Regions from separate parts of the Homo sapiens genome. Here region 2 is linked to region 1. Evidence: fine-mapped expression QTL. A gene starts in region 1. The other region holds a variant in brackets. All regions are shown on one strand. Distances are between the middles of the regions.

Region 1 (12,184 bases):
TGGACAGAAGCCCTCTATGTGTTCAGCTCTAAGCCAAGTTTCCTGGTGTCATTAGAAGCCCACTTGTAGTTGGAGATTACCCAATCTGAATGTTTTGATTGCCTGAATATTTCACTAATTGCAGGGGTGTTTGTCAAAAGTGACTTAATGTCCCCAAAGCTGTCTGGAGACCTGTGTTACAAGTCCCACTCCCAACCTCAGTTAAGCAGAGGGGACCCTGAAGAGGGGATGGGAGGAAGGGAATCTGCATAGGGTCTTTCCTTAGAGCCAGCCCCTCTTGCCAGGCAGGGCCCTGGCCCTCCGTGGCAAGGATGGGGCAGGAAAGGATGACGGCTTGGTCTAGGGTGGGGGCACCAGCAATTGGGAAAAAGGCAGAAACCCAATTCGGAGGGCTGGGCCCTGAGGAGGTGACTGAGAAGGCCTTCAGGACATCTTAGTAATCTTCATCTTTGATTGAAAGATAAAAACAGGGGAGAACCGGTTTTGGCAAATTGGACTTCTAGGAGTTAGTCAGCAACTTGGTCTGACCAACTCTTGGTTGGTCCTGGCCTTGACCCCAGGCCTGGAGGCTTGCAATGGCACTGGGGCCAGGACCACTGCTCCCCAAACACCTCCAGGACCCCCCAGGGTTGGGACTTGCATTAAGCATTTTGCTGCCTCCTGACATAGTGGATTTGGCTGGTGGGCTGCGCTGGGCCACTTTGGTTAGAGGGGTTCTGAGCTAGGGGCAAAGAAGGGTAGGAGGGAGACCCAAATGGGAAGAACAGGTTCTGGAACAGTGGCAAGCTGGGGAAGGGCCCTGCAGGCAGGAGAGCTCTGTCCTTCAGCGGTGACACTGGCCTACTGGGTGAGGAGTGTGGCAGGAACGCTCATGTTGAGGAGGTTTGGCAGGGACCAAGATGGGGGTCCAGTCAAGGTCAAGCTGTCCTGCCCGTGTGCCCTTGGCCATGACTGACTGTGAATGCTGGGTGGTGCCCAGCTGGGTGGTAGGAGCAGGCATGGGTGGTCTGGGGGTTTAGGTTTGGGGATAAGGAAACTGCAGGTGCCTTGGATTTCCAAATGTATCTCGCTGTGGTCAAAGCTCTTGGCTCCTGTGCAAGCTGCCACTGTGTTCTGGGAAGTCGTCAGGCCGCAGGAACAATCTGAAGCAAACGTGTCCTGCCCGCTTTGAATGTGGCCCAACACAAATTTGTAAACTTTCTTAAAACATTATGAGTTTATGAGTTTTTGTTTTTGTTTTTGTTTTTGTTTTTTTTTTAGCCCACCAGCTATCGTTAGTGTTAGTGTATTTTATGCATGGCCCAAGACAATTCTGGTGTCGCCCAGGGAAGCCAAATAATTGGACCCCTGGTCTAAAGTGTTTGAGGTGGGCCAGGCATGGTGGCTCACGCCTGTAATCCCAGCACTTTGGGAGGCCGAGGCGGGTGGATCACAAGGTCAGGAGATCCATCCTGGCTAACACGGTGAAACCTGTCTTTACTAAAAATATGAAAAATTAGCCAGGTGTGGTGGTGTAATCCCAGCTACTCAGGAGGCTGAAGCAGGAGAATCGCTTGAGCCCAGGAGGCAGAGGTTGCAGTGAGCCGAGATCACGCCACTGCACTCCAGCCTGGGCGACAGAGTGAGACTCCATCTCAATAAATAAATAAATAATAAAGTGTTTGGAGTGAACTCACTGCCCACCAAGGGCTTCAGGTCTCAGGAGGCCCGATGGGCCCAGTCTTGGGCTTGTCTTGATGGGCCCAGTCTTGGGCTTGTCTTGATTTGCCCAACTGGCCTGAGGGAGACTAAAGCAGGCAAAGGATCCAGGTGAATATAAGAAGTGAAACAATTTCAAAAAAACAGCAGAAAAGAAACAGCAAAAGGGAACCAGGGAGCTGAGAAAGAATTGGGCTGGTTGAGCTCACAGCCCAGAAATCTCAGTGAGGGGGCGTGGAGGGTAGGGAGCCCCACTCCTTCCTGTTTATTGTCCTGCTTTGCTCCTGCAGGGTTCAGTGCGGTGTGCTTGCTTCAGGGTACACCCAGGAGACGCTAATGGGTGATAATGAGGGTGTCCCGCCCCAATACCTATACTTGTCAATAATTAACCATGATTTCCTAGGTTCTGGGAGGAGGTAGTGGCACCTGGCCTGCCCTGGCTGGTTTAGCTCATGGGGCACCTCTGGCGTAGCCATTCCAAGGTCTCTGTGTGCTTCCAGGCTGTTCTAGGGATGGGTACCTCCCAAGGCATAAGGGAACTTGAGAACTGACCTTTACCCATGTTCCTGATCCTAGCCAGAGACAGACTCCCAGACTCGGCCAGAGGCTGATGCCAACTCCTTCCAGCTCTCACGGTAACCATGAGGCCCCTGCGTGTTTCTGTTGTGGAGGTCCCAGAGGGAACTGTATGGACAGACACAGCCCGAAGGGCCATCTGCCTCAAGCCACAGCAGCACAGAATTCTAAAGATTGTGGGGAAGGATGGGGCCAAGGTGGGCTTGGGCTCCTTGGTGAGAGAGGTGATTTGGGCCCAAGCAGCTAAGCAGGGGTGGAGGTTACTATAAACTTGTTCATCACCAGCCACAGTGCTTTGCCTGCCCTAGAGAGTCAGTGTGACCAAGGCTTCCATGCAGGGGTGTGATGGAACTGGCATTCCAGAGGGGGAAAAAGTCTTGATTTAGCATTTGCCAATTTTGGTGATGTAAATACTTCCACCAAGTCTGATTTCAAGTACCAATTGGTTTAACAATTGACTCACCAAATTCCTGAATATTTAACAAGCAGCTCTTTGTCCACTGCCCACCAGACCCCTGCCCCCGGCGCCTATGCTATACCTCTCTCAGCCCAGCGCTTCACCTCCCTGTCCTTGCAAAATCCCCTTCTCTGGCCGCTGGAAAGCCTGGGACCTGAGGCCATTGAAGCTCCTGTGCTCCAGGGTCCTGGAGCGGAGCTGGTCTTCTTCCCAGGTTGTTATACTCCTCATGGAGGTGATGTGTGTAAAATGCTTTGCCAATGTGAACACCAAACCCACTCAAATGAGGTCCCAAGGGACCACCGATTTCTAGTCTAAGGGCAGTAGGGAGATCGGAATTCAACATCTACCACTATGGTTTGAAAAGCCGGTTCAGGGCATTTGGCAGTCCCAGCTTGTCAGCTGACAAGCCACCTGCCTCGCTCCTCCCTTGGTCGCATGCTAACCTCCTCACTCATTTCCACTTCCAGGGGACCAGATGTGCAGAGGTAATGAATACCAGGGAATCAGGAAACCACTGGATCAGTTCTTTGAGCCACAGAACAACACTCATCCCAGCAGCTGGGAAGCTATCTGCAAAAGTCCATCTGCAGAAAGGGCTTCCTGGTCTTGCGTGTGGCTGGGCCATTTCTCTGGATGCAGGTTTTTCATTATACAGTCTTCTCAAAGAACCACCTGCTCTCAACACCTTCTCGGTGACTCCATTTCCCCTCCTCTGGGCTCCTGGAATGCCACAATGGCCCCACCTTAGCCAGGCAGCTGTGATGAGAGGTGTTGACCCAACTGCCTCTCTGCTGGCTCACTGAATCAGGTGGAAGGGGCTGGGGACAGCACAGTCTTGCATTGTGGTTGGGGACCTGGGCCATCCAGAGGCAGGACTGTCCAAAGGCAGGGTACTGCTGGGATTCCGCCAGGCACTGGGTGATGCATGGCATAGGGAGCTGAAGAGGGACAGGCTCTTGGCCAGGAAAAACAGCCCCAGAGCCACAGGTGTGCCATCGAGTCTTCCTCCTCTCCCATCCTTAATCACTCCTGTTTGGTGACAGCACACAGCTAGGCCTGGAGCCCAGCAAAGAGCCCCTGGGTCCCAGAGGAAGTTGTTCTGGGGGCTGGAGACAATCACAAATGCCAGGTTTGTGAGCCCCAGACTCTGGTTCATAGCAAGAGGCAGACTTGTGAACAAACCACCAGATCACACCGTAAAACACGCTCAACGAGGAGTGGGTGCCCTTTCTAGGGACAGGCAGAAGGCTCCATGGAGTGACCTTTGAATGGGGACATAAAAGTGGATCCCTTCAACAGCCCCTGCACAGCCCCAAGTCAGGCCTCCAGCCCTTGGACTCACAGATGTCCTCTGTAGACGACTGGATGTCCTCCCGTGCTACCCTTTACCCCTGCAGCGAGGGGCACAGAGCCAGAGCCCTCCAGGTCCTCACCACTGGCATCACCAACATAGTGGACATTTTCCCTCTCAGAATGAAAAGGGAGTGAAATTTCCCGTGATCTTTCCACAAATGACCAGCTTGGGGAGTGGGAGAGGAAGTGCTGCAGTGCCTGGGGAAGGGGCCCTGGAACAGTTCCTGGAAATGGAGAGGGGTGGATAGGGTGGAGACAATGCTCATGGAGTGCAGTATGGGGCCTACCCAGAGTTGCTTGGCCACCCCTCTGCCTCTGAATCAGGGGTGATCAATGAAGGAAAATTACTGCAGCAGTTGAGTCCATGTAAGATGATTGTGCACGTGTGTGTGTGTGTGTGTGTGTGTGTGTGTGTCCTCACTCACTTAAAAAAGACCATTTCTGTGCATTCTTTATGCTGGAACCCTCCTCTGCCTCCCTCTCCAGGAAATCCCATAGGATCCCATACCTGCTTTAGAATGTGTGTGAGACACTTCCCAGTGCCTGGCATGTGGTAGGAGCTCAGTACATGTAAACTGTTTTCCTTTGACCACTCAAAGTAGTCACTTGTTGGGGAGGCCAATGGCGGCTTCCCCGGTCTCTGAGCTGATGGGCGTCTGGTCCCTGCCTCCCCTTCCTTCACTGGCTGATGACAAATACCTGAATGTCATCACATCCTCCGTGTCCTCATCTGTTATTCTGGAACACAGGCCAGGGAGGGTACAGGGTAGTCCCCCTTCAACAGAGGCTGGCCTTTCTTGGGATGTGGGCTGGCTGGTGTTGGTCCAAGGATGGATGCAGAGGGTGAGGCACCCATCCTGCTAGTCCGGCCGGATGCTGGCAGGAGGGCGGGGTGAGGAGGGGCGGAGCTTCCAGAACAAAGGAGAATGGGGAGCCCAGGGGCCAGCCTAGGCATCAAAAAGGCTCTGCAGAGTGAACAGGCCACAGCACTGCCTGCCTCTGCCCCAGCAGTCAGCCAGCCGACCGCGCCTGCTCCCTCCTGCTTGCCCAAGGCCGGGCAAGTCATCCCCACTCTGCTTCGAGAGGCCCCGTTTTCCAGCGTGATTGCGCCGACACTGCTCTGTGGGTTTCTCTTCTTGGCGTGGGTTGCTGCTGAGGTTCCAGAGGAGAGCAGCAGGATGGCCGGGAGCGGAGCCAGGAGTGAGGAAGGCCGCCGGCAGCATGCCTTCGTCCCGGAACCTTTTGATGGGGCCAATGTCGTCCCAAACCTCTGGCTGCACAGCTTTGAAGTCATCAATGACCTCAACCATTGGGACCATATCACCAAGCTAAGGTTCCTGAAAGAGTCCCTCAGAGGAGAGGCCCTGGGTGTCTACAATAGGCTCAGTCCCCAGGACCAGGGAGACTATGGGACTGTGAAAGAGGCCCTCCTGAAGGCCTTTGGGGTCCCTGGGGCTGCCCCCAGCCACCTGCCCAAAGAGATCGTCTTTGCCAACAGCATGGGTAAGGGCTACTATCTCAAGGGGAAGATTGGCAAAGTGCCCGTGAGGTTCCTGGTGGACTCTGGGGCCCAGGTCTCTGTGGTCCACCCAAACTTGTGGGAGGAGGTCACTGATGGCGATCTGGACACCCTGCAGCCCTTTGAGAATGTGGTAAAGGTGGCCAATGGTGCTGAAATGAAGATCCTGGGTGTCTGGGATACAGCGGTGTCCCTAGGCAAGCTGAAGCTGAAGGCACAGTTCCTAGTGGCCAATGCGAGTGCCGAGGAAGCCATCATTGGCACTGATGTGCTCCAGGACCACAATGCTATCCTGGACTTTGAGCACCGCACATGCACCCTGAAAGGGAAGAAGTTTCGCCTTCTGCCTGTGGGAGGGTCCCTGGAAGATGAGTTTGACCTGGAGCTCATAGAGGAGGACCCCTCCTCAGAAGAAGGGCGGCAGGAGCTATCCCACTGAGAAGCCACCTTTTCTTTAACCTCCTAAATATTGGTGGGAAGACCCACCGCTGTGGGGGGGGTTGCATATCCTCATGGGGGTCACTGGGCTTGGCCAGTCTGCTTATCAACTCTTGCTCTTCTCTCCCCTTTGCCTCCCTCTGCAGGGGCCTTAATCTGCCCCTGGTAGGGGAGGCTTCCACTGAACAGGCACAGGTGAGGGAGAGCAGGCTGGCTTAGAGGGACAGGGTCCCCATGGTCATCAAGCTGCTGTTGATGACAAAGACTCAAAGGCTGGAAGAGCTCCCAAGGAAGCTAGAAATGCTTGTCTTTGAAAGAACTGTGGGACCCCTTCAGATTCCCTGAGGTATGGCTTGGTCACTCTCAGGTCCTCAAAGCCTGTCTTAGTTGGGCTGGGTCCTAGCTGCAGGGTCTTTGTGAGGGTCACAGTTGCTCTGGGACACCTCCCTGAAGAGCCTTTCCACCTGTACAATCGTATTTTCTTTCTGTCATTTGCTTTGAAGCCCATTGTGCCTTATGCCAATAATTCAATTGCTGCAAACACCAATAAAGATTGATTCATGGAAAAACCATGTAATGTGTTGATTGAGGATGAGAGGAATGTGAGAGGGAGTCAGCATCAAAGACAAGGGAGATTCACATGTCTACTGAGTGCCTAGCTGGAGGTATAAGAACATATACACAGGGATGACAGGTCTTGGATTTTCTAAGACAGTCTCAGCATAAAATATTTTGACTTATTCCCTCCAGAATTGCTCTCATTATTTTGAATCGTCATAATTCCTCTACTTATTTCAATCTGTAGTATTTTAGCATACAAATTGCCTCTATACCCAAAAGTGACCCTAAAGTTTTATGTGAGATGTCTTGATTGGGGATTGGGAAATTATGGTTATGATAAACAAACAGGAAAGTGTCTGCTGGGCAAATAGGTTCTTACAGCTGTCCAGGAGCGAGAACTTGGAGGCAGAAAGCAGGGCCAGGAGACAAGTGTTGACCTGTGTGGGGCAGCCCAAGGGCATGCTGGAGGACGGGGGAGGCTGTGGCAAGGCAGGGTCCCGGCGGTGGGAGGTCAGCTTCTTCTTGGAGGGACTTGGAACAGAGCCTGAAACTAGATGACCTGATGGAGGGGAGGACATTCCCAGATCTGGGAATGGGGTGTGCATCTCTTTTAGGGGTCCATCTCGTATTTGCTTCCAAATTTCTGTTTCTTTTTCTGGAGTGCAGCAGGGCTGGGAATCTGAAACTCAAAGGGAGGAGCTGAGTGGACAAAAGTCTCCACAGAAGAGCCAGTTTGTTCCAAATCTCAGGCCTCCCCACCAAGCACATCGGGCGAGCCTGTTCTCAGGGGAGGGTGGCCTGCACCCTCCAAACTTTGGGCCCAGGAAGATTGGCGCAAGGTCAGAGACTCGAACGTGCAGGGATCCCAGACCTCTTGATGGAGGCATGAAGGACCATTTTCCATCCTCCAGGGTGGAATGAGCCTCTTGAAGTTCCCACCTGGACAGCTCCTGAGGGAGAGACAGAAGGCAGGAGTGAAGCCCCTGGACTTTTTGAAGCTGATCTGAGCCAGGATCAGCTGCCCGTCCCTGGCCCCTTCTTCCCTCCGATTCCAGCTGTGATTCTCCTGGGAACTGAGGCATGGCTCAGCCCCTAATCCTCGGGGTTTACCGAGGCCCCTTCCCTGGGCAGCCAAGCATCTTAACTGAAATTAGCTCCATCAGCCCCAGGGCACCTGGAGGAAGGACAGGTGTGGGATCAGGAGGAAATCTATTTCCAGAAAAGTGATGCCTAGAGAAGTGGGTGGGAGAACTGGAGAAGGGGGTGAGAGAACTGGAGAAGGCGATGGGGGAACTGGAGAAAGGGTGGTCTCCGGATGACTCCCAGATCCTGCATCCCCCTTCTCAAATTTGATTTTCAGCCCCACTCTCTGTGGCCTAACGCATGCTGCTCTCTCATGGGCCGAGCCCTCTCCCGAGGGAACAATCCAGGTGGCACCTCCCTGTGACTTATTTTCCTCCAGGTCCTTTGGATCCCAGCCACGTGCTGGGTAGAAGGAGGGAGGGTAAAGAGTCTGTAAGTGGGTGGGTGGGGAGCTGGGGAGGGGACTAAGGAATTGGTGGCCAGGCCAGAATTCCAGAGCAATACCCCAGCCTCCCTGCCCTTTCCCACACACCACACGGAGTGGAGCCCTGTCCTGGGTGATTGCAAATGGGATGCTGTGTCCCAGCAGCAGACACCTTCTTCCCCTGCTCTGAGTGAGGAGAGCCTGTCTGAGCCCCCAGGTCTCCAGCTCTCAGCCAGTTTTCTCTCCTAGAGAAATGTGGGCCCCCCGAGAGGGCACAGTGAGGGGTGGGGTCTGTGACATCTGAAGCATGGCCCCCATGGAGGAAGGGACCATGTGGTGCTTCTTACTGGGAGACCCGAGTGAGGCTGAGACCGCTGCTGCATGCGGGTGAGAGTGATCACAGCTGCAGATGCGTCAACGTGGAACCCAGCTGCAGGACTATGAGCAGCTGCTCTCTGGGAAGTCAGGTATCAAACAACAGAGAAGCCCGGGAGAGAAGCCAGAAAAAGTGGGTTGTGGCCACACCACAGAGGGCTTGCTGTCTGGGTGAGGAGTTCACACCTGCCTCCCACAGTGGGCGTTTGAACCATGGGAGAGCAGGAAGATTCATCTGCCTTCTGGGTATAGGATGGAGTAAAGCAGCAGCAAAGGCTCTGCTGGGACACCATGGCAGTCCTTATACCTAAGGTCTGCTTTTGCAATGATGGAAAGGAGGATGCAGGATCAGTGTGAAGGTTTAGCCTTTGGAGCACATGATAATCACCAGAGAAGACCCATGAACATCAGTTCCTCCAGTGGTCCCAAAGTGCAGCAGGCTTGGGAACCCATGGTCTAAATTCCAGTGGCATCTACCCCTGTACTGCCCAAAGGGTGATCCATGAACCAGCAGGAAGGCGGCATCAGCATCACCTGCGAGCCTGTTGGGAATACAGACTCTCCATCCCCACCCAGACCAGCGCCAGAATCTGCAGTGAGCAAGATCCCCAAGTGATTCTAGGGGACATAAGAGTTTGAAAAGCCCTGGCCTAGAACATTCTAATACCTCTAGTTAAGGGGGCCCTACAAGCTGCCTTCTTCTCTAATAATGACCACCACAAACTGAATGCATGCCAGTTCCCCAGACCATACTAGATAATTCTTTATGCTTTTATCCAGAAAATCTTTAAGTCTTAATTTGAGACTAACAGGAAAGTTGCAAGAGCAGTACAAAGAATTTCCACGTTTCACCCAGTTTCCCCAAATATTAGCATTTTTCCAATTAACTTCATCATCTCTCTCATTCTCATTCCTTTTCTCCTATCTATATATATAGGAACCTTTGAAAATCGCAAATATGATGCACTTTTATCTCTAAATACTTCAGTGTATATTTCCTAGGGGAAAACAACAACAACAACAAGGGCATTCTCTTATATAACCATGATGCAGTTATCAAAATCAGGAAGTTCACTGATGTAATACCACTATCATCTGATCTTCAGATCTTACTCCAATGGTTCCAATTATCCCAACAAGAACATTGTTGGCCCCCAGATTATTTTCTAGTCCAGGACTGAATTCAGCTACATATTGCATTTAGTTGCCGTGTCTCTTTCATCTCCTTTAATCTGAGTAATTCCTCTGTCTTTGTTTTCATGACCCTGATAGTTTTGAGGACGCCTGGCCAGTTATTCTGTAGAATGTTCCTCAGTTTGGCTGAATCTGATGTTCAGTTGTGGTGAGATTCGGGCTGTGGGTTTCGGGCAGGAATACCCAGAAGTGATGGTGCATCCTCAGTACATCGTATCAGGAGGCATATGTTGCCGACTTGTTTCATCACTTGGTCAAAATGCTGTTTGCCAGGTTTTTACTCCATAAATAACTATTTTACCCCCGTCATGAGTAAGTGTCTTGTGGGGAGACACTCTGAAGCCATATAAATATCTTGTTTCTCATAAGACTGTCACCACTAGCCTCAGCACCCATTGGTGATCTTTGTCTGAATTGTCACTGTGATATTACCAAATTACCAAATGATGGTGATTTTCTAATCTCCTTCTTCTTCTTCTCCTCCTCCTCCTTCTCCTCCTCCTCCTCCCCTCCTCCTCTGCTTTCTTCTTCTTCTTCCTCTTTTCTTCTTCTTCTTCTTCTTCTTCTTCCTCTTCTCCTTCTCCTTCTTCTTTCTTCTTTCTTCTTCACAGGGTCTTGCTTTTTTGCCCTAGCTGGTCTCAAACTCCTGGGCTCAAGTGATCCTCCTGACTCAGCCTCCAAAGTAGCTGGGCTTACAGGACTAATTCTATCCTTCTATACCTATTAGCTGGCCCTCAACTCTACAGAAGAGCTTTCTCTACTCATTTATTGGTTGATTTATACCATGTGGACTTAGAGATTCTTATTTTTCTATGAGTTATACTCATTTACAATCATTATTTATTTTGATGCTCAAATTGTTTTAGATTTGGCCATGGGGACAGCTTCAAACTGGCTCCTGTCTCCTTGGGACGTGTCCCCATCATCATAAGAGCCCTTCCTTATTTTCTGGCACAAGATGTTCCAGGCTCATCTTGTCCCTTCCCTGTACCAGCCCTGGGATCAGCCATTTCTCCAGGAGCTCTGGTTCCTTTGAGTGGGGTCTGATATTCAGAAACAAGGATCTGGGTGTCAGGTGTGTGTGCTTCTTGCTACTGGCATGCCATCACTCCTAGGACCTCTCAGTGGTCAGAGCTAAGAAGAAAACCATAGAGTCCACTTCTCTATATTTCTCTCTCTCCCTCTCTCTATTATGAGTTCCTGCTGATACTTCCAATTCCAACCCCACACTCTAGGACTTAGTCTAACCTTCCCCTTTATTTATTATTTCTCATGTCACACAGCTACTGTGCCGATGTTGTAGCAAGGTGCGAGGTGGCACATCACACACGCTCCTGCAAACATCCAATCATCACGCTTACAAGCTACAAAAGGATCGTAACCTTCCCCTTGAGATTTGTGACTTCTTTCTCTAATAATGAGAAACCTGGCTCCAGGTTACTTATTTGCCCAGTTCTAAAATACCCAGAAAGTTGTTTCCGAATTGCTAACCCATGCACCTATGGAAGAGAAGCTTAGGAGCGCCCACTCATTCAGATCTCCCACCCAGTGCCAGGTGTGGGTGGCCATTGGCAGCAAATGAGAAAGACAAATGAGGAAGCCGAGCGCAGCTGCTGGCGGGAGAGTGGAGGTCTCCCAGGTGTGCAGGGAGTGCCTCGAGGGCCAGTGTCAAGGTGTGTCCTTATCTGAGGACACGATGTGTCCATCAAGAGGGCAGCTGGAGTCATAGACTGAAGGCCATGAGTCCTGCCCTTGTGGCCATGCGAGGGAAGGGCCAGCCTCCACGCTCCAGGGAGGTGACCTGGTCTGCCCACCTGGTCCTCTACACTGAGGAGATACTGGGGCAGCTGTCAGACATGACGCCACCCCACGTTCCAGGCCCATCAGTCACTGCTCCTGTATTGAGTCCACCGTTGCCAAGTAACCTCGGGTAAGGAAGCCTCTTGGCTGGGTAGCAAGAAAAGCTGTTATGCTTTTCACTGTGGGCTAATCAATTGGCTCTCAAGTTTTGACTGCTTGATATTGTGGGTCAGTAACCCCCAAGCCTGGAGAACTGTGTAACTCTGAGCTGGACTGTGGTGACTTCTCCAAGGCACATGTGGTGCTCTTCCTGTCTCTAGGAGTTCCTAGCAGAGCCTCTCCCTGCACTAGGAAGGACGTGAAGGGAGCCCTGTCCTCTAGGACAGTCTGGGAGAGGGAGGCAGGCAGGGCTTAGAGTGACCCTGTGCTGTGACCTCCTCCCCACTCCTGTGCTGGGTGGGACATTGTGCAGTCAGGGACAGCTCCCTAGAGATCTTTAAGTTGAGTCTTTAAAGATGAATGAATGGATGTTTCCCGGGAATATTTGGGGTGGAGGGAGGAAAGGGAAGAAAACAGGGAGGCAAGGACAAGCCTGCTGGTGTTGGCTAACAGAGACAGGAGGAGAAGACGGGGGCCAGCATGGATCCTCTCATATGGACTTTGAGGAAACTCCAGGAGACCAGGGAAGGAGATGCTGCTTTTA
Region 2 (12,184 bases), 120 kb before region 1:
CTACTCGGGAGGCTGAGGCATGTGAATGTGAACCTGGGAGGCAGAGGTTGCAGTGAGCTGAGATGGTGCCACTGTACTCCAGCCTGGGAGACAGAGTGAGACTCTGTCTCAAAAAATAAAAATAAAAAATTGCCCTACTAACGTAGCTTTTTTTTTTAAGTGGTTTCTTTTTCTCTCTTAAGATTTATCTTTCTATTTCTCTTTTATTTAAAGTAATAGTAGTCTGGGCACGGTGGTTCACACCTGTAATCCCAGCATTTTGGGAGGCTGAAGCAGGAGGATCACTTGAGTCCAGGTGTTGGAGACCTGTCTGGGCAACATGGTGAGACCCTGTCTCTACAAAAAAATAAAAACATTAACTGGGTGTGGTGGCGTGCACCTGTAGTCCCAGCTACTTGCAAGGCTGAGATGGGAGAATCACTTGAGCCCGGGAGTTGGAGGCTGTATTGAGCCATGATCGCGTCACTGCACTTCAGTCCGGACAACAGAGTGAGACCTTATCTAAAAAAAGAAAATAAAAAATAAAGAGTAAATTGAGAGAGCCTTTCCCCTGTTACTTTCTAGGTTACTACAGTTGGAAATATATCTGTTGAAAAATTTTTTTTTTTTTTTAAGATGGAGTCTTGCTGTGTCACCAGGATGGAGTGCAGTGGCGCAATCTCGGCTCACTGCAACCTCTGCTTCCCGGGTTCAAGTGATTCTCCTGCCTCAGCAACCCGAGTAGCTGGCACTACAGGCGTGTTCCACCATGCCTGGCTAATTTTTCAGTATTTTTAGTAGAGATGGGGTTTCACTGTGTTAGCCAGGATGGAAAATTTTTTTATTTGGAAAGGAGAGCTTTATTTCTCATAAATAAATGCCAGGCTGGGAAGTGAGCCTCCAGCCAGAAGCCAGAAACAGGCACTTCCAAGCAATGTATCTTACCCATATTGTAGATAGTAACAATTTGACCTCATATGCTGGTGACCCTGCACTGCTGTTAGGAGATCACTTCTTGGTTCTCTGAGAAATGTAAGAAATGTGTTGGGGTTGGTATAGCTGGGTGTGGTGGCTCACACCTGTAATCCCTGCACTTTGGGCGCAGAGGCAGGAGGATTGTTTGAGCCTACGAATTCAAGACAAGCCCGGGCAACATAGGGAGCCCCTGTGTCTACCAAAACAGTTAGCCCAGCTGCTGGGCAGGTTGAGGTAAGGAGTTTCAAACTAGCAGACTGCAAAGTGGAGGACAGGGAAGGGTATTCCAGGCAGAGGAAGCAAAGGCCTGAAGTCAAAGAAAGCACAGTCAATTGAGAAGTTGTAGTCATTTCAGAAAGATATGAATGAAGGATGTTTACATTATCCAGTTTTTGGTGACTATTGTTTTGCTACTTCACTAGTGTATATTATTGAGATTTGACTATACTTGCTAGAGCACAGAAAGTTAAAGGCTTTATTTTATAGCAATAATTCTCTTTTAAGGTGAAGACATCAGAAATTATACTTCCTGTCCAGAGATTCTAAGGAGAAAATGTAAATTAAACCTGACCTTTGAGTTAGCAAATGATTGATAACTCTCTGTCCTATAAAAAAAAGAAGGGGTGGCCGGGCACAGTGGCTCACGCCTGTAATCCCAGCACTTTGGGCGGCCGAGGCGGGCAGATCACCTGAGGTCAGGAGTTCGAGACCAGCCTGGCCAACGTGGTGAAACCCTGTCTCTACTAAAAATACAAAAATTAGCTGAGTGTGGTGGCACATGCCTACAATCCCAGCTACTTGGGTGGCTGAGGTAGGAGAATTGCTTGAACCTGGGAGGCGGAGGTTGCAGTGACCCAAGATGGTGCCATTGCACTTCAGCCCAGGCAACAAGAGTGAAACTGTCTCAAAAAAAAAAAAACAGAAGGGGCAGGGCACAGCCTACTCCTTTCTCTCTAACTTCTGAATCTTACCATGTTTTGCTTTGTTTTTGAGGAGGGGTATGTATGGAAATTTAGGGTCTTTGTTAAGCTGGTTAGGAGGTTTGAGTTAGAGGGGAGAGAAAGGAGTTCAAGAATGATTGCTACTTTATGCAGAACAAAAAAAATACATTTAAATAACTCATTTCTCTGATCCCACTTACTAAGCACAAGCAAGACTTAACGGATTTTGTTTCAGAGAGACAGTTACTTCAACCAGACAAAGCATTTGTTCAACATTATTCACTGTGTAATATTTGTTGTGTCCCGATTAAGAGCATTGATTTTTGCTTTTTGTATTTCTGAGACACGGATATAGCTGAATTAAATAGAACCCTTCTGTGTGTTCATTGGATAGTACTGGGATTTTTATGTGGATTAAAAGAGAAGAAAAGTGTTATGCGTGGAATAGGAAAGAACAGGTTTAGAAAATGTATGTAGAGTCAGTGGTCATTTCTCACCCATTTTTATTCTTGATATCTCAGTAGCATTTGATACTCTGTTGCACCCTAGCTTCACTTGTCTTCCAGGATGTCACTCCCTTGATGCTGTTCCTGCCTCACTGGTTCCTCCTTCTCAACTTTTTTTTTCTTATTCTTCATCTCCTCACTCTCCATTGGTGGAGTACTCAGAGCAGTCCTTGGATCCCTTCTCTGTCTACACTCTTTTCCTAGGTGCTCTCTTTCAGGACTTTATTTTTTAGAGACAGATTCTCACTCTGTTGTCCAGGCCGGACTGCAGTGGCATGATAATAGTTGACTGTAGCCTTGAATTCCTGGTCTCAAGAAATCCTCCCTCCCCTCCTCAGTGGCTAGTACTACAGGTACCCACCACCATGCCTGGCTAATTTATTATTTTTTTTTTTGTAGAGACAGGGTCTCACAATGTTGCTGAGGCTGGATTCGATCAAGACTTTAAATGCCGTTATTCCCTGACAATTCATGAGTTTACATTATTAGCTTGAATGTCTTTCCCTGAACTCAAGACTTATATCCAACTATTCACTGGATATCTCCACTTGGGTGTCTAATAGTTTGTTGAACTTATTAAAAAACTTCAGAACATCTCCTCTCAAATCTGCATCTCTGGAAGGTCCTCCCCATTTCAGAGTTGCTATTCATCTGTGTATTGAATATATAGAGAGTCTCCCTTAAATCTGTTTTTTCATTCTCTTCATCCAATCCACCAGCAGGTCCTGTCAACTTCACCTTAAGATATATCCAGTATTTAAACACTTCCCACCACCTGCCCTGCTGCTACTGGAATAGCTTTCTAAGTGGTCTTCCTCCTTTTGCTCTTTGCCCCCTCAATCTAATTTTAACAGTGACCAGAATAATCCTTTTAAGTATATATCAGATCAAGTCACTGCTTTGCTGAAAACTGTCACCTGGGTGCCCAGATTAAAATCCCACCTGGATTAAAAGGTAGTGTCCCTACCATGGTCTATAAGACCATGTAGGATTCACACCACTCTCTCCCAGCTGCTCTGACTTCATTTCCTACCACTTCCCCTTGTGCTGTAGCCACAATGGTCTCCTTTGCAGTTGCTCCAGCATGCCAGGCCTTGGGGCCTTTGTAGTTGCTTTTTCTGCCAGGAACATCATTTTTCCAGATGTCAGTATGGCCTTCTCCCTTATCTCCTTCAGGTTTCTGCTCAACTGTCACTTAATCAGTGAAATATACCTTAACTGCCTTGTTTAAAATAAAAGCTATCTCTCTGCCTTCTGCTTTCTCTGCTCCCCTTCCCTGTTTTTTCTGCATAGCACTTGCTATTTGACATATTGTTTATTCATTCATTGTTCATTATTTAGCAAGTATTTATTGAGTGCTGTCTGCTTGTGCCAGGCATTGTGTTCTAGGGACTCTCTACCATAGTTTATTACATGTCACCACCCACTAGAATGTAAATTTCATGATGGTTAGGACTTTGTTTTGCTCATTGCTATAGCCCCACTGCTAGAACAGTGCTTGTAACATAGGAGCTGAATGAATAAATTTATTTAATTATTATTTTTTTTGAAACAGAGTCTTGCTCTGTCGCCCAGGCTGGAGTGCAGTGGCGCGATCTCGGCTCAGTGCAGCTTCCGCCTCCCGGGTCTCCTGCCTCAGCCTCCTGAGTAGCTGGGATTACAGGCGTGTGCCACCACGCCTGGCTAATTTTTGTATTTTTAGTAGAGACGAGGTTTCATCATGTTGGTCAGGCTGGTCTCAAACTCCTGACCTCATGATCCACCCCACCTCCGCCTCCCAGAGTGCTGGGATTATAGGTGTGAGCCACCACGCCCGGCTAATTTATTTAATTTTTATTTTATTTTTTTTGAGACAGAGTTTCGCTCTTGTTGTCCAGGCTGGAGTGCAATGGCGTCGTCTCAGCTCATTGCAACCTCTGCCTCCCGTATTCAAGTGATTCTCCTGCCTCAGCCTCCTGTGTAGCTGGGACAGCAGGCGGACGCCACCATGCCCAGATAATATTTTGTGTTTATAGTAGAGGCGGGGTTTCACCATGTTGGCCAGGCTGGTCTCGAACTCCTGACATCGGGTGATCTGCCCACCTCGGCCTCCCAAAGTGCTGGGATTACAGGTGTGAGCCACTGTGCCTGGCTGACAGTTTCTGTTTAAAGTAAATACTATTTATCTCTGCTTTATTTTGAAAAAAAGTTTCATAATAAGTGTATGGTTTTTTTTCCTAATGAAGGTAATAAAGGTTTTATTTTTAAAAACAAAGACTTTAGAATATTGCTTTTTATAGAGTAACATGTTTCCAATAAATATTTCCCTTTTTCTCCACCCAAGTACTTATCCTGTATTACATGAAGGAAATGAAATAAAAAGACTGCAGCCCCACTCCCAGCTACTCAGTGAGGTGGTAGCTAGGTAAGAAAACAACCCTTTCCTTTTAGATGAAATTGGAACTTAGGAGGTAGTAATCTTTGGGAGAGGCTTAAAGGGATTGATAATGATGATAACAAAAATAATAGTAATGGCCAGCTTTGATGAACCGGGCACTGTGCTAAGAACTTTATGTTGGTTGCCATCTTCTGACAACCATATGATTCCGGTACTATGAGAAGTAGAGCCAGTGTAGTAGGAGTGAGGAGCATAGACTATGGGGTCGGACCTCCTGCTTTGACACCTAAGTTTTGCCGGTAACTGACTGTGTGGCCTTGAACAAGAAAACTGTGCCTCATTTGTACGGATAGTCCCTGACTTACAGTGGTTTGACTTACAATTTTCAACTTTACGATGATGCAAAAGCCATATATGTTAATTAGAAACTGCACTTGAAATTCTTAATTTTGATATTTTCCTGGCCTACTGACACGTTCTCATGATGCTGGGCTGCAGCAACAAGCTGCAGCTCCCACTCAGCCGTGCAGTCATGAAGGCAAACAACCAATACTGCACACTGTACTGTGTTTAATAAATTACATGAGATATTCAAGTTTATAATAGGCATTGTATTAGATGATTTTGCCAAGCTAGAGGCTAATGTTAAGTGTTCTGAGCATATTTAAGATAGTCTAGGCTGAGCTATGATGTTTGGTAGGCTAAGTGTATCAAATATGTTTTTGACTTACGGTATTCGAGATGTAACCTCATCATAAGTCAAGGAACATCTGTATTTGTACAATGAGGATAATGATAATACCTGCCTCCTAAGATGGTGGTGACGGTTAAATGCCATCAGCTATGTAAAGTGCTTAGCATAGTGCTTGGCACATAGAAAGTGCTTACCAAATGTCAGCTATTATCATAAAAATTAAAATAGTTGTTATTCTCATTTAAAAGATGGATAAACAAAGGCTTAGAGAAATAAGGTAAATAAAGTAATTTGTGTAAGTCACACAGCATATAAATGACGGAATTAGTTTGCACCCAGGCAGTCAAACTCCAGAGCTTTTGCTAACCATTACGCTGCATCACCTTAGTAGGTTGAGAGGAAGACTGGGCAAAAACTGCATCTTGTCAAACTTGAGTGTAGGGGTAAAGGTCAGGCTTGAGTTCTGACTTACCTAACCTTCATTGTGATCTTAAGCATCTTATCAGTGTAGCATGTGCCTCGATTATTCTCTGAATTGATTCTTCCCTAGATCCAAAGACATGAATGATAGGTTAGTTATATTCTTCTCCTGCTGAGGGATTGGGTGTTCCCTGGACCGGGAAATGGAGCTAAACAAACACCTATGTCTCAGTGCTTTTTGGACCATAAGTAAGAGCTTGTCCGGCCTCTCTTGTTATTATGCTTGTTTATTTTTTCACATGACTGGTAATGATGAGAAGCAGAACAGCATACACATTGAGAATTTTCTTTTTTTTTTTTCTTTGAGACGGAGTTTTGCTCTTGTTGCCCAGGCTGGAATGCAATGGCGTGATCTCACCTCACCGCAACCTCCGCCTCCCGGGTTCAGGCAATTCTCCTGCCTCAGCCTCCCAAGTAGTAGCTGGGATTACGGGCATGTGACACCAAGCCCGGCTAATTTTGTATTTTTAGTAGAGACAGGGTTTCTCGATGTTCCTCAGGCTGGTCTTGAACTCCCAGCCTCAGGTGATCTGCCTGCCTCAGCCTCCCTAAGTGCTGGGATTACAGGCGTGAGCCACTGTGCCTGGCCACA[C/T]GTTGAGAATTTTCTACATGCTATGTACTCTACATGGATTATCTCATTTAATCCTTAAAAATAACCTCATGGTGACTCTTATCCCCGTTTTATAGAGTTGAAGAGAGGTTAGAAAACTTGCTTCAAGTTGCACAGTTAATAAGTAGTAGAGCAGGGATTTAAATAAGGCAGTCCATCCTGAGTTCATGCTTGCTTTTTTTTTTTTTTTTTTTTTGAGATGTTGTCTTGCTCTGACCATTCTGGCTAACACGGTGAAACCGTGTCTCTACTAAAAATACAAAAAAAATCAGCTGGGCATAGTGGCAGGCGCCTGTAGTCCCAGCTACTCGGGAGGCTGAGGCAGGAGAATGGCGTGAACCCGGGAGGCGGAGATTGCAGTGAGCCGAGATCGCGCCACTGCACTCCAGCCTGGGCGACAGAGCGAGACTCTGTTTCAAAAAAAAAAAAAGATGTTATCTTGCTCTGTGGCCAGGCTGGAGTGCAGGGGCGCAATCTTGGCTCACTGCAACCACCTCCATCTCCTGGGTTCAAGCGATTCTCCTGCCTCAGCCTCCCATGTAGCTGGGACTACAGGTGCATGCCAGCATGCCCAGCTAATTTTTCTATTTTTTAGTAGAGACAGGGTTTCACCATGTTGGCCAGGATGCTCGATTTCTTGACCTCGTGATCCGCCTGCCTCGGCTTCCCAAAGTGCTGGGATTATAGGCGTGAGCCACTGCGCCTGGCCCCGAGTTCATGCTCTTAACCTCTGCACTCTACTGCTTGTAGTCTTTTCTTACCTCTGTTAAGTAGGTAGTATGGACTGTGTGGTATAAGAGTAGTAGGGCCAGCTCTGTTTTTCTCATATGAAAAATGGGAAGATTTTGACCACTGGACTAGGAATAAAGAGGACTGTGATCTTGACTTGACCCTGCCACCAACTTGCCATATTTAGGACTTCACTTTTTTTAGTTTTATGGTCCTTATTCATTAAACAAAGGGGTTGGGGCCAGGCGCGGTGGCTCATGCCTGTAATCCCAGTACTTTGGGAGGTCGAGGTGGGCGGATTACGAGGTCAGGAGCCTGGCCAATATGGTGAAACTCTGTCTCTACTAAAAATACAAAAAAAGGCCAGGTGTGGTGGTGTGTGCCTGTAGTCCCAGCTACTCGGGAGGCTGAGGCAGGAGAATCGCGTGAACCCAGGAGGCAGAGGTTGCAGTGAGCCAAGATTGTGCCACTGCACTCCAGCCTGGGCGACAGAGCAAGACTCTGTCTCCAAAAAAAAAAAGCAGTTGCTCTAGATGGCCTCTGAAGTCTCTTTGAACTCTGATGTTCTGTAATTGATCATAGGAAGTAAGAGTAACACCTGCTTAACACCTGCTTAGCTCCTTGAGTTTGGGGCAATGGTATTTGTGATTTCTGTTTTTTTTTTTTTTTTTTTTTTTTTTTGAGATGAAGTTTTGCTCTGTCGCCCGGGCTGGAGTGCAGTGGCGAGATCTCGGCTCACTGCAAGCTCCGCCTCCTGGGTTCACGCCATTCTCCTGCCTCACCCTCCCGAGTAGCTGGGACTACAGGCGCCCGCCACCATGCCCGGCTAATTTTTTTGTATTTTTAGTAGAGATGGGATTTCACCGTGTTAGCCAGGATGGTCTCCATCTCCTGACCTCGTGATCTGCCCATTTCGGCCTCCCAAAGTGCTGGGATTACAGGTGTGAGTCACCGCACCTGGCTGTGAGTTCTTAGAGAGTCTGCCTTGTGCAGGGAAGATGCCAGATTCTAGGGCAAGGGATGAGCCGTCTCCCTGAAGAAGGTAGATCTAGGTTCTTTTTTGAGGCTGGTTGCCAAGGGAACCCAGCCTCTGGCCAGCAACAGCCAGCAATGCTTTGGTTGAGGCTTGGGTACACATAATGAAAACAAGCCGCACATTTAGGTTTCATTCCTTGCCTTTCTCCCATCTCCACCTTTCCTTTTTCTTTCCTTGTTAAGCTGCTAGTTTTAAACACATTCATGTGTCAGACACTGTTTTAAATACTTAACAAAGTATCGTTAAGTATCGTTAAAGATTAAATGAAGTATCATTTAATCTTCACAGTAATCTTACAAAATAGGTACTCTTATTCTAAACAGAGGCAAGTAGAGTTAAGTAATTTGTCCAGATTTACTCAAGAGAAAGTAGTATCAAACCCGTACTTTTAGCTACTAAGTTGTACTGCCTGGTTGGATATTTAAAAAAATAGAAGAGGGACTTCTTAGTTATTTATTAGTGGTTTTTGTTTGTTTTGTTTTTATTTAGAATAAAAACTCTTGGAGCTGAAAAGAGCCTTTGAAGTAATTTTATGCAGTCTCCTTGTCTCCAGCCTGCCATCCAATTACAGGAATGTTTTCTATCATTCTCCTGACAAATGATCTTTCAAGTTCTCTTTGAATACCTCCATTAATAGGGGAGCTCATCAGTTCTTAGGACATCGTTGTTGAAAAGCTCTCATTGGTAGAAATATAATCATAATTTTTTGAGATAGGGTCTTGCTCTGTCACACAGGCTGGAGTGCAGTGTTGGATTACAGCTCACTGCAGCCTCAACCTCCCTGGCACAAGCGATCCTCCCCCTCAGCTTCTCCCTTCTCCGAGTAGCTGGGACTACAGGCACATGCCACCATGCCCGGCTGTTTTTTTTTTTTTTTTTTTTAGTTTTTTATAGAGACAAGGTTTCACTATATTGTTCAGACTGGTCTCGAATTCCTGGGGTCAAGTGATCCTTCTGCCTTGACCTCCTGAAGTGCTGGGATTACAGGCATGAGCCACCATGCCCTGCAAAAAATTATTATTTTTGTTTTTATTTTATTTTATTTCATTTTATTTTTGAGACGAAATCTTGCTCTGTCGCCCAGGACAGAGTGCAGTGGCACAATATTGGCTTACTGCAACCTCTGCCTCCTGAGTTCAAGTGATTCTCCTGCCTCAGCCTCCCCAGTAGCTGGGAGTACAGGCACTCACCATCATGCCTGGCTAATTTTTTTATTTTTAGTAGAGACAGGTTTCATCATGTTGGCTAGGCTGGTCTCAAACTCCTGACCTCAAGTGATCCTCCCGCCTCGGCCTCCCAAAGTGCTGGGATTACAGGCGTGAGCCACTGCGCCCAGCCACCTGGCCTTTTTTTATTTTTAAGAGATAGGGTCTTGCTTTGTCACCCAGGCTAGAGTGCAGTGGTGTGATCATAGCTTACTGTAGCCTTGAACTCCTGGGCTCAAGTGATCCCCCTGCCTCAGTCTTCTGAGTAGCTGGGACTACTGTGTGCCACCACACCAGGCTAATTCTAAAAATTTTCTGTAGAGGCTGGGTGCAGTGGCTCACACCTGTAATCCCAGCACTTTGGGAGGCCGAGGTGGGTGGATCACTTGAGGCCAGGAGTTTGAGACCAGACTGGCCAATGTGGCGAAACCCCATCTCTACTAAAAATACAAAAGTTAGCTGGGCATGGTGGTTCACATCTGTGATCCTACCTACTCGGGAGGCTGAGGCATGAGAATTGCTTGAACCCAGGAGGCAGAGGTAGCAGTGAGCTGAGATCGTGCCACTGCACTCCAGCCTGGGCAATAGAGCGAGACTCTTTCTCATAAAAAAAAAAAAGAAAGAAAAATTTTTGTAGAGACTGGGTCTCGCTATGTTGCCTGGGTTGGTCTTGGACTCCTGACCTCAATCAGTCCTCCCGCCTTGGCCTCCCAAAGTGCTGGGATTACAGGCATGAGCCACTGTGCCCTGCTGAAAATTATTTCTTGTTTTGAATTGAAATCTAATTGAGACTTCTCATTAATTTAATTTTTGTTTTTATTTATTTATATTTGAGACGGAGTCCCACTCTGTCACCCAGGCTGGAGTGCAGTGGCACGATATCGGCTCACTGCAACCTCCACCTCCTGGGTTCAAGTGATTCTTCTGCCTTGGCCTCCTGAGTAGCTGGGATTACAGGTGTGTGCCACTACGCCTGGCTAATTTTTATATTTTTAGTAGAGATGGGGTTTCACCATGTTGGCCAAGCTGGTCTGGAACTCCTGACCTCAGGTGATCCTCCCACCTCAGCCTCCCAAAGTGCTGGGATTACAGGCGTGAGGCACTGTGCCCGGCCTAATTTTAGACCAGTACCCCGGAACTATACAGAATAAATGTAATACATCTTCCACATGCAAACTCATGAACCTTTGAAGACAGTCTTCCTATGTGTAAGACATATTTGCAGTTTATCCTAATACCTAAACTTGCTTTCAGTTCAGATCATTCTGCACAGAAACAATTTCTACTTCTCCCTACTTTGTAAATGCAGTCTGACAAATCTGTGCTTCACTTAGGATTATTTAGTTACAAGGTGAGTATGCTTTCCTTTCCTCCTTGAAGAATGAATTGATGGTGAGCTAAGTCTTTACAATTGTCTGTGAGTTTGGAGGGTTTGCAGTCTCCTACTCTTGTAATCATTAGGAGGTCAGGCTGCTGCCCTGCTGCATACGCCATCAGAGCTCACAAAATGGCTGGAAGTTTATCCGGGCACTTGACAAACTGCATTTACTTCATCAGGCCACTAGGTGATGAACAACTCACAAACCCAGACTGCCAGGGACTGTGGTGTACAGGGCAGTTTCTGTTTATACTTGGAAAGGCCATTCGAAGTCATCTGGTCCAAACTCATTAAAAGGTTTTTGTTGGGGAGGGGAAACATGTTTTTTATATAGTTTGTCTTTCCTGGCTTTGTTACAGTTAAATGTTAATTGCCTGGGACATTTCCTTTTTTTTTTTTTTTTTTTTTTTTTGATACGGAGTCTCACTCTGTCACCCAGGCTGGAGTGCAATGGCACAATCTCGGCTCACTGCAGCCTCCGCCTCCCGGGTTCAAGCGATTCTCCTGCCTCAGCCTCCTACAGGCGTGCGCCACTGTGCCCAGCTAATTTTTGTATTTTATTTTTTTAGTAGAGACAGGATTTTGCACTGTTAGGCTGGTCTCGACCTACTGACCTCATGATCGCCCGCCTTGACCTCCCAAAGTGGTGGGATTACAGGCGTGAGCCACCACTTCCAGCCAAGTAGGACATTTCTTTGAGTGATTTTCTTAGAAGGGGGGCATGAGTGGTACTTTCAAAGTCTTTTTATGTCCAATTTCTTTTTAACCTTCGTGTATGAATGATATTGTGGTTAGGTTTAGAATTCTTGGAATACTAGTCCTAGTCTCGACAAAGTCTAAGTAGCTTTCCAGTGTTTTGAGTTTCTGGTGATACAGATGAGAAGTCCAATGGGATTTTTTTTCCTTGTAAGTAATAATCTGTTCTCTTGTTCTGGAAGTTTGTGAATTTTTATTTATGCTTAGAGTTTCCTGTGGTATGCTTCTGGTATGTCTTTTTTTTTTTTTTTTTTTTTTTTGAGATGGAGTCTTGCTCATGTTACCCAGTCTGGAGTGCAATGGCACGATCCCAGCTCACTGCAACTTCTGCCTCCTGGGTTCAAGCGATTCTTCTGCTTCAGCCTCCCGAGTAGCTGGGATTACAGATGCGTGCCACCACGCCTGGCTCATTTTTGTATTTTTAGTAGAGATGAGGTTTCGCCGTGTTGGCCAGGCTGAGGTGTATGCCTTTTAAAAATAACACTTGTTGGCACTTGATGAGCCTTTTAGACTTAAAA

The links. PIP is the estimated chance that this variant, and not a neighbour inherited with it, causes the effect.
Region 2: its variant is fine-mapped to the expression of ASPRV1 in whole blood (TOPMed, PIP 0.99).

The regions. Positions count from the first base shown.
Region 1 is chr2:69,954,518-69,966,701 of GRCh38, reverse strand. ASPRV1 (aspartic peptidase retroviral like 1) reads left to right here and starts at 5,071. Exons shown (of 1, transcript NM_152792.4): 1 at 5,071-6,613. The coding sequence starts at 5,266. The coding sequence ends at 6,045. PCBP1-AS1 (PCBP1 antisense RNA 1) reads left to right here. Exons shown (of 11, transcript NR_033872.1): 10 at 2,275-2,471; 11 at 3,202-4,439. LOC124906177 (small nucleolar RNA U13) reads right to left here and starts at 11,057; the gene lies at 10,955-11,057. RefSeq lists a silencer at 4,891-5,185.
Region 2 is chr2:70,069,922-70,082,105 of GRCh38, reverse strand. PCBP1-AS1 (PCBP1 antisense RNA 1) reads left to right here. Exons shown (of 11, transcript NR_033872.1): 4 at 616-736. It also overlaps a transcript of ASPRV1 not described here and the pseudogene RN7SL470P. Among named protein-coding and RNA genes, the nearest start is that of PCBP1-AS1, 11 kb to the left of the region's middle. RefSeq lists enhancers at 10,948-11,017, 10,955-11,249. The variant C/T (reference allele first, on the strand shown) is at 6,545.